2 separate regions of the Homo sapiens genome follow, and region 2 is linked to region 1. The links come from fine-mapping of genetic effects on gene expression. A gene starts in region 1. The other region holds a variant in brackets. All regions are shown on one strand. Distances are between the middles of the regions. Region 1 holds the start of LNPEP (leucyl and cystinyl aminopeptidase). Region 2 holds the start of ERAP2 (endoplasmic reticulum aminopeptidase 2).

Region 1 (4,385 bases):
CCATGTCATTTGAAAACACTAGAAAATTCTACAGCAATCCTTCAAAAGTTTTCAAATAAATACCCTGTCCATCTTAAACCTGAAAAGCACTTCAAATTGCTAACATTTAATTTCTTATTGACTGTAGATATTGTCGTTTCTGTTTTCCTTGTAAAAGGATGCTAAATAAGGCTCCAAGGAGTGATTGCTACATTAACCAAAATTATGCACTGCCAAGCTGTCTCCAGCATCAACTCTGAAAGATAGGAAAGAATCAGAAATCCAATTTCCTACATGAAAGTTGAAGCATTGCTTCTTTTTTTGTTCTCTTCTGTGGGATTTTTCCATTGTCCTCCCAAATGTGACAGTTTGCAAATACCCACATCTAGAAGCAATCTAGAAGCATATTCTATAAGAGAAAAGACACCAATTTTAAAACTTGAGAAAGTACTTTAATTCTGTAGGCAAAGGTTCAGCAAATCAGCTAGCACTAATCTTGACCAAATGGGTGAGTCAGCCTCATCACAGAGATTTTTTTTTTAATTTAGATGAAATTTCACATTTAAAAACATGGTAACTCCAAGCATTCTTCCAAAAACAAAGAATGAACATTGGAATAGTCACTTACAAGGACTTAACGACTTGTATTAAACATATTTTACACTAAAGTACTAGATGGTCTCTAGTTCATTTTAGCTCAAACCTTCCTTAATTCTTCGAGTAACTTCACCAGACTATTCTTTAAGTCTTAGTAATTACAAATAGAACCTGAATGAGAAAGAAAATTCAGAATTAAAGTTGTTATCAGTAAGCCTAATTAAACAGTGCAGACAGAAAGATGGCAGTAGAATAAAGCATTCTACATTAGGAATAGGGAGAATATAATCAGTAGTTCACAGCCCCATGAATGAAGCACAGCATACAACAAAGTCTGGCTGGGATTTGGGATAAAGTGGACAATATCTGTCTGCTCTTGAGTGGTAACTAACAAACTAAACAGGGATATAGACTGTGGCCCCTATTAATGTGATACTGTACCTGAAGTAACCAACCACACTCAGCAAAACATGTCAACCAGAGACTGAATCCTCTTTTAGTGAGTCGTCTCCCTTACTGGCAGTTTTCCTACTTTCTATCTTAAAAGGGAATCCACACACTCAACACCGCAAAACGGTAAGACATCTCACCCCTATATTGTGGCTCTGGCACTTCTGGTCCGCACAAAAGCCATGGTTCTAACTAGGGTGGGATTTATGCTCCCCGTTCAGTGAAGGGCTGTGGCTGTTTGCAGGGTGCAGGCTCCCTGCGTTGACTCTCGCTTCCTGTCACACAGTGGTATCACCACCGTGACGGACCCTTGACATTAACAAGTCTTTGACTGAAAAACTGATGTGATCTGCAGCCAGTGAGGGGATGCGTGGTGGCCCTGCCGAGTACCTCGGCAGGGTCAGGAGGGTGGCACTGTGGCCAGGCACCTCCGCGGCACCGAGCGAGGTGAGCAAGCCTTTCCTGAAGTTTCCCTTCCTTCCACAACATTAACCTGCCAAGCCTCCCACCCCCACCCCGCCCTATTAGGAAAAGTCACGCCGGCAGCTCACTGAAGGGCAGGGGGACAGCTCCTGGCGCCCCACAAAAGTTGGGCTCGGCAGCTGCCACAACTTAACGCTCCTACAGGAGAGTCGGGCCGACACCGCCTCCTCCGGGGGCAAACCTGAGCTGCCAACTTTCCCACTGCCCACTCCTCTGCGCACAGCAGCCCAAACTTTGCTGTTTGCCCACCGGCCGCACCCCGGGCGAGCGGCGGCGGCGCTGACCTTCAAGCCAGCCCCGGGTCCCGCACTGGCCGCCGCCCGCCCCCCGAACCTCCCTGCCTCCCCCAGATCCCCTCTCCCTGCCTCCCTCAGCCCTCGTGGGAAGCCCGCGGTGTTGGGGGAGACGGCTGCAGCCCGACCCCGCGTGTCACGACTGCCCACGACCCTCAGGGCTCCGGAGAGCCCGGGTCCCGGCGCCTCGGCAGCCCACTCACCATTGGTGAAGGGCTCCATTTTCCCCCCGCCGCGGCTCCTTACAGCCGGAGCGCCCGAGCTTCCTACTCCGAGAGCTGAGGCGGCCCAGCTGACTGAGCATGCCCAGCGCGGCCTCCAAGGGCTGCCAGGGAGGTGCCGCGAGGGGCGGCGCCGCTCCGCCGTTCCGGGTTTTCGTGGCAGCTGCAGAAAGAGCGAGGGAAGCAAGAGGGAAAAGCACAGTCAAACCCCCTGCTGCTCCGTGGACAGGCGAGGTGGGAGCGGGTTCGCGCTGGGGGCGGGGCCTAGGCGGGGCCGGGAAAGCCCAGCCCCTACCTGAAGTGGACCCGGCTGCGGCGCTCTCCCCGGCCGGGAACGGTGTTCAGTCACTCAACAAATGTGGAGCCCTACTGCGACCCGCCCGATCCCGGACGCCGAGACACCCGCACTGCGCCAGAAAATCATGGTCCCAGTCCCAGGAGCGGACATTCCAGAAACAGACCATAAATAAACACAGAAGACACACGAGTGTAAAGTCAGTGCCCCGCTGCGAATTAAATCGGGGTGATGTGATGGCGAGTGAGTGGGTAGTTAATTCGGATGGCTTGGTTAGACGAGGCCTCGCTGAGCAGGTGCCACTGAAGCCGAAGTCTGAAGGCAGAGCAGGAACCTGCGGGCGAAGGTCGCTATCTGAACCGCGAATCGCTGGTTTCCCTGGGGAGGTTGGCCGCGGAGGGATCACTGCTCGAAGGACCGAGGGAGCGGGCGCTGTAGGTGTTTTCGGCAGAGATGCCCGCCCGCATCAGAGTGCCTCAGGAGGGCGGTGAGGAGGAGACGGAAGAGAGGGCGGGGACCTCGCAGGGCCGAGGGCGCCCTGGGGTCCAGTCCCGGGGCTGGCGGCTGCCTTGCGGCCTCTAGGTGCGGGCGGATAACAAAACCCGGCGCCGGATCGCCCGGCCCGGGTCGCGGGCGCCGCAGGATGTGGGCAGAAGGCCCGCCTGTTCCGAGCCTTAAATCAACACCTGCGGTTCCCGGGGGTGCTACCACTGGGGCCCGCAGCAAGGCTCCGCGGCGCTAGGCCCGAGAAACCGAAACTCCCCTAGTCGCCCCTGCCCCCCAGCACTCGCGCCATTGCCTCCAGCCCCGAGCCACCATTGTTTCCAGTGCCAAATCGGGCAGCCCCGCTAGCCTCCGAGGCCGAACCGCCAGGGGCCCCATAAGCCCCGAGGAGGCTCGTCGGGAACCGCTTCCTTATCCTCTCGGTATGCGCATCGCCACCACCCTCGCTGCAGAGGCCGCCGCCCTCCCAGCGCGCCATCACCGCCTCCTCTGCCTCTTCCCCTCCCTCAGCCCCGGCCCCTGCATTGACTTGGCTCGGGCTGCGCCTCACTGCGCCTGCCAACTGTCACACGCTCTGAGGCTTTCAACAGCGGGGCGCCAGGGACAAACAAGCCGCGGCAAGCGCAAACAGCCTGCTCAAACAGGGACGGCCAGGGTGTTGTTTGACCAGCACTGGAATTGGAAACTAGGTTTCGAAGAAGTCAAATCGAAGTACAATATTGTATTTTAAACTGCCTGTTGTTATTACATCCCTCACAACGCACGCTCTACTTGAAACTTCCAGTGGATACCAACTGCACTTAGAATAAAAAATGAAACTCCTTGCCTAACTCTGGGACCTCATCAGCACATACTCACCATATTTTGGTAACAAAGGCCTTCATGCTGTTCCCGGAAGTCGCCAAGTTCCATCCATCATTGTTAATAATTCCTTTTGCTCGCTCCTCGCACAAGAACTGTTTCTTCTGCTTAGTGCTTTGCCTACTGATTCCATCTTGTCATTTAAGTCTCGGCTCAAATGTCACCTCTGCAAAGAACCCTTGTCTGACCATACATCTAAAATAGCCACAAACACTCTATAAAGACTTGGCCTTGCTTTATTTCCTTCTCAGCACTCATCACTGTCTGAAACAATGTTTTGGATTTGTTGCTTATTATCAGTCTCCCTTCTCAAGAATGCAAGCTTTGTGAGGGCAGAGTCGTAATCTTTTTTAAGGCTGTATCCCCAATGCCTGGGTAAGTATACAATAAATAATTTTTGCATGAATAAGTGAAGGACATAGTGGTGTTTAGAGTTCACTTCCACTGCTGCAAACCCTTCCAGTTAATGACTCCATACTGAATGATGTGTTTGATCAGTACAGAGAAGGTGTCTGTATCATATGATACCTCAGAGCTGCTATCTCCCTAATGTGTGAAAGGTAATCAGAACCGTTAGGCTGGCCCCTAGTACTGACATTTTAGAACCAAAAATAGTGAACCACAGGAGCTGATGTATCCCAGTTCAGATATTATATAGTACACGCAGAGCTAGATTTTGTTAACATACTTCACACATTGTAT
Region 2 (4,385 bases), 60 kb after region 1:
CTTCCTTACTGCTCCAACTCAAACCATGAAGGTTTTCTCTGCTACTTCTTCTTTTTATAATCCTTAACAAGTTCTGCAGCATTAATTATCCAAACAATTACTTCAATTTTTCAATTTGCAATATTAATGCAGGTGACAGGTATTGTTAAAGGAACAAAAATAAAATAATATTAAAGATACTTCTCCCTCTTTTTAAAAACAAGCATTAAATTACTGCTACAAATCTCAGTGTTCCAAGAACGTCTGATAAGTACACTCATAATTGGTCTATTAGCTTGAATTTTGGAGGGTTTAAAAAAAATGGAGTGGCTTATTATGTGGGTCTGAGGCTTTGGAATCAGAGTGCCCAGATTCCAACGCTAATTCCACCAACCTCACCTACGTGATCATGGGCAAAGTTTTTTACTTTTTGAGCTTCATTTATCTCAACCATAAAACAGTGTAATAATTATACCTTCCTCATGCTGGGATGATTAAATGAAATAATTCATGTGAAGAAGTTGGCACAGCACAGCATGGAGCATATAGGAAGTAAGTAATTAGTGTTGGATATGAAATTATTATTGAGGTTATAACTTGCATTCAATGGCCAAAATGAAGGAGTAGCTCGCCCCCACTTGTAGCAGACACTCCTAGAGATGTACTTGATTGATAAGAGTAGAGAGAAAAGCTTTACTCACACAGTCTTTAACTTTAGAACTAGTAAGGGTTGTAAAGGCCAGCTAGTACAAGTCCTTAGTGTTCAGATAAAGAAACAGGACCGGGCACAGTGACTCAGGTCTGTAATGCCAGCATTTTGGGAGGCCAAGGTGGGCAGATCACCTGAGGTCAGGAATTCGAGACCAGCCTCACCAACATGGTGAAACCCTACCTCTACTAAAAATACAAAAATTAGCCGGGCATGGTGGCACATGCCCGTAGTCCTAGCTACTCGGGAGGCTGAGGCACGAGAATCGCTTGAACCAGGGAGGTGGAAGTTGCAGTGAGCCGAGATCGTGCTGCTGCACTCCAGCCTGGGCGACAGAGCGAGGCTCTCTCTCAAAATAAATAAATAAATAAATACATAAATTAAATTAAATAAACAGATGAAGGAACAGGATGGTGACTTCTCAAAATCCACACAGGAAGTCTGAAACAGAATCAGGACTAAAACATAGCTCTTTGCCCTTTGGTCTGGTGGGCTTTCTATTATACTGCACTGTACCTTAAATAGCAATGCAGTGAACAAAACATCCTGGGATTGAAGAGGCAAGAATTGTCACAAACGCTTAGAAAAGACAAAAAGATCTCTGAAAGAGAGTCAGTGCAGCAGCGTCTTAGATCAAGTCCCAGCCTCAACTGCATACACTTTCTAATACAGCCGCGCCCAATTCACCCCAGTCCCCCAGAACCTTGCCTTAGATTACAAAACCTTCTCAACACAGCAGTTCTATACCTTCAGTTCATTATTCTTATTGAAAAAATCTAATTTTAAGACAAACCCAAGAGAAATGTTGATACGTTACCTTAAATCATGCTGCTGCAGATTTGACTGAAGGGGAATTTACTTTTGCTTTCACTTTCTGTTCTAAGATTCAGAACTTTGCATGCTTCCTGAGTACAGTAAGTACTAGCTGGTTCATTATCACGCAGGTGTGAATGGAGCTTAGGATAAGAGCTTTATTTCAAAAAGGACAAGAAACTTTTTGTAGAATGCACAAATAAGTGGCTTTGGAGTAGAAGCCAAACCATGGAAAGAAAGGATCGCCAGTGGCTGCCACTTCTGCTGTTATCACCTCCCTTCCCTTGTCCCCAGGGTAAAGCCTTCAGAACATAGTTTATGTTTTTTAGTGCCAAGTTGTTGTCTTAGGAATTGATCTTGAACTTCTCCTTGTGCTGCATCCTCAGTGCTATGAAATCTGACTTCTGCCCATCCACCCCACAAACGTAACTCCAAGCTTACCAAACACCTCCCGGGCAGCTTCTGTGATCTTTATCAGAGGTGATTATTCTCAGATTTTCCATGTCTGTAACCACCCTGTCTCCTTGGGCACGAGGGGACTGTATCTCATGCTCATCTCTTTGATCTCTCTTTATCTGCCTGTTTGAGTTGGGCTTCAACTTCCTCTCTGCTCTGAATACAGACCTTCCACAAAGATGAAACCTCTGGCCTTTGCTCTGCCCTCTCTTTATCCTTTCCAGTACCCAGATTTAGCATTTATCCCCATTCATCCCACATTGCTCCCATTGTGATCCCTCCTTCAAGGGTTCTGCTGCTGTAATTCCAACAGCCTGATGGACCAACAGTACATGGATGTCTAACCCTAACCTGAACCAGAACCCTGACAACTCAAATAGTGTTTTCTTTCCCCAGATAAACACCCTTTGCTTTATATGCTTCCAGCCTTCTTCCATTATCTAGGATTGAACCATATAGTTAGTTACTTTGATTCTGTCCCTCTCCAATTTGTTACCAAAGCCTGTTGATTTTTCCTTTTCTTTTCTTTTTTTTTTTTTTGAGATAGGGTCTCACTCTGTCACCCAGGTTGGAGTGCAGTGGTGCCATCCCAGCTCACTGCAGCCTTGACTTCCTGAGCTCAAATGATCCTCCCACCTCAGCCTCCCAAGTAGCTGGGGCTACAG[G/A]CATCCACCACTACACCCAGCTAATTTATTATTTTTTTTTTATAGATGAGGTCTTCCCATGTTGCTCAGGCTGGTCTCAAACTCCTAGGCTCAAGTGATCCTTCTGCCTCAGCCTCCCAAAGGATTGGGATTACAGGCATGAGACACCGCAACTGGCCTTTTTGAATCATTTTCAATCTCTTTCTATCCAACTAAGAAAAAATCCCACCGCTTATTAAAGTAGTCCAGGTCCTCATCCTTCCTCACAATGGCCTTCAATCATGTCTTCCCAGCTTCTCAAGCTCAGCTTCTTGCAGTTACTTGTACGATGCCACCAGATTAATCCTTTCAACTACTGCTCGACCATGCCTCCCCCACTGCTCAAGATCTTTCCTTGATTTCCCCATTTACAGAGGGGCAAGTCCTAGTGTGGGAACCATAGTGGCCTACTGGCAGCCTATATGCCAGCCTATAGTTGTTTTGTTTGAATCACAGTCTATTAAATGGCAATACATCCATACAATTTCTATTGTCAAGTGAAATATAACAAGCTTAGCTCTTATCATGTTGCAGACACTCTTCATAGACTTGTATCATGTGCCTTGTCCTGCTGTGGTTTGTGTTTGCAACCTATGTTTGGCCCAATAGCACATGTTGCCATGATTAGATCCTAGTTAAGTCTCAAGCTTTAATTTTTCCACCTTTCTACATTTTATTATTTCAACCTGAAAGAACAAGTCGATAAAGTAGAAGGGGCAGAAAGGAAGGCAGTAGCCTACACCTAAGGCCCGAAACATAAGACTGAATGGGGTCCCTCAGAGCTGCATTTCATGTAGTGAGAGGGGCACCACAGGAAGGGGGATGGCTGGAAGCCAGTGAGTGGGAAAAAGAAGGGGACAAAGACGACAAAGAAGAGGAGGCCCCAAGGGCTTATCTACGGACTCTAACTCTGCAGGGCGTGGGGGCAGGTAGAAGAGGTATAGGAGGCTGGGAGTATTTCTGTGATATTCCTTGTCACAAGATCCAGCCTAGCTGTGGGTATGTGGGCGAGTGCATGTGTGTTTTCAGAGCTCTCTCCTGCCCACTGGAACAGAAGTGGTGATGGAGAATGAAGAAACAGGCTATGGAATTGAGCTGCAGAATCCTAGAAGTGAAAATTGAGCCAGATTCAAGTACTTGTAGCTTATTTAAAAGAGTTTCTCAGCAAAATGGGCTCCTAACTTTTCTTTTCTTTCTTCTTTCTCTCTCTCTTTCTTTCTTTCTTTCTTTCTTTCTTTCTTTCTTTCTTTCTTTCTCTCTCTCTTTCTTTCTTTCCTTCCTTCTTTTTTTTTTCTTTTCTCTTCTCTTTTCTTTGGGATAAGCTTTGGGAAGTTTATTGCTTAGGGAATTCATGTCTCAGTTTTCCATTTCATCCTGGTCTCTGAATTGTCTCTTACTCAGAGAGACCCTCCTTGTTGGCTCTAAGGCAGTACCACTCCTCCCTAAATCCACCATCACCAAGGCCTATCCTGTCAGCCTGCTTTTTGTTTCTTCTTAGCTTTGGTCAGTTCCTTATACTTCATTATGTAGTTGTTTGTTTGTTTTCTTGTCTCCTCACTAGAACATAAGCTTTTTGCAGTAGCAACTCTGCCCTCTAACTGCTGAGTGCCCAGTATAGAGCAGAGCCTGCCATATAAGAGACCCTCAACAAATGTTAGTTGAGTGGGTGAATGCATTTTCAGTGTTTTAGTTTTTGTTTTTGTTTTTTGTTTTTCCTTAGATTGCCCAACACTTGCTTCATGCTT

Evidence for each region. PIP is the estimated chance that this variant, and not a neighbour inherited with it, causes the effect.
Region 2: its variant is the best candidate, but not a certain one, in a credible set for the expression of LNPEP in whole blood (INTERVAL, PIP 0.85).

The regions. Positions count from the first base shown.
Region 1 is chr5:96,933,795-96,938,179 of GRCh38, reverse strand. It overlaps LNPEP (leucyl and cystinyl aminopeptidase), which reads right to left and starts at 2,100. Exons shown (of 18, transcript NM_005575.3): 1 at 2,006-2,100. The coding sequence starts at 2,024. LOC124901030 reads left to right here and starts at 2,105. Exons shown (of 1, transcript XM_047417984.1): 1 at 2,105-4,089. The coding sequence starts at 2,105. The coding sequence ends at 2,809. It also overlaps a transcript of ERAP1 not described here. RefSeq lists silencers at 1,567-1,646, 1,777-1,846, 2,787-2,856, 3,297-3,416 and enhancers at 2,437-2,746, 3,047-3,186, 3,497-3,626, 3,687-3,896.
Region 2 is chr5:96,873,648-96,878,032 of GRCh38, reverse strand. It overlaps ERAP2 (endoplasmic reticulum aminopeptidase 2), which reads right to left and starts at 1,533. Exons shown (of 19, transcript NM_022350.5): 1 at 1,506-1,533. It also overlaps a transcript of ERAP1 not described here. RefSeq lists enhancers at 635-844, 1,215-1,424, 1,595-1,744, 1,765-1,894. The variant G/A (reference allele first, on the strand shown) is at 2,623.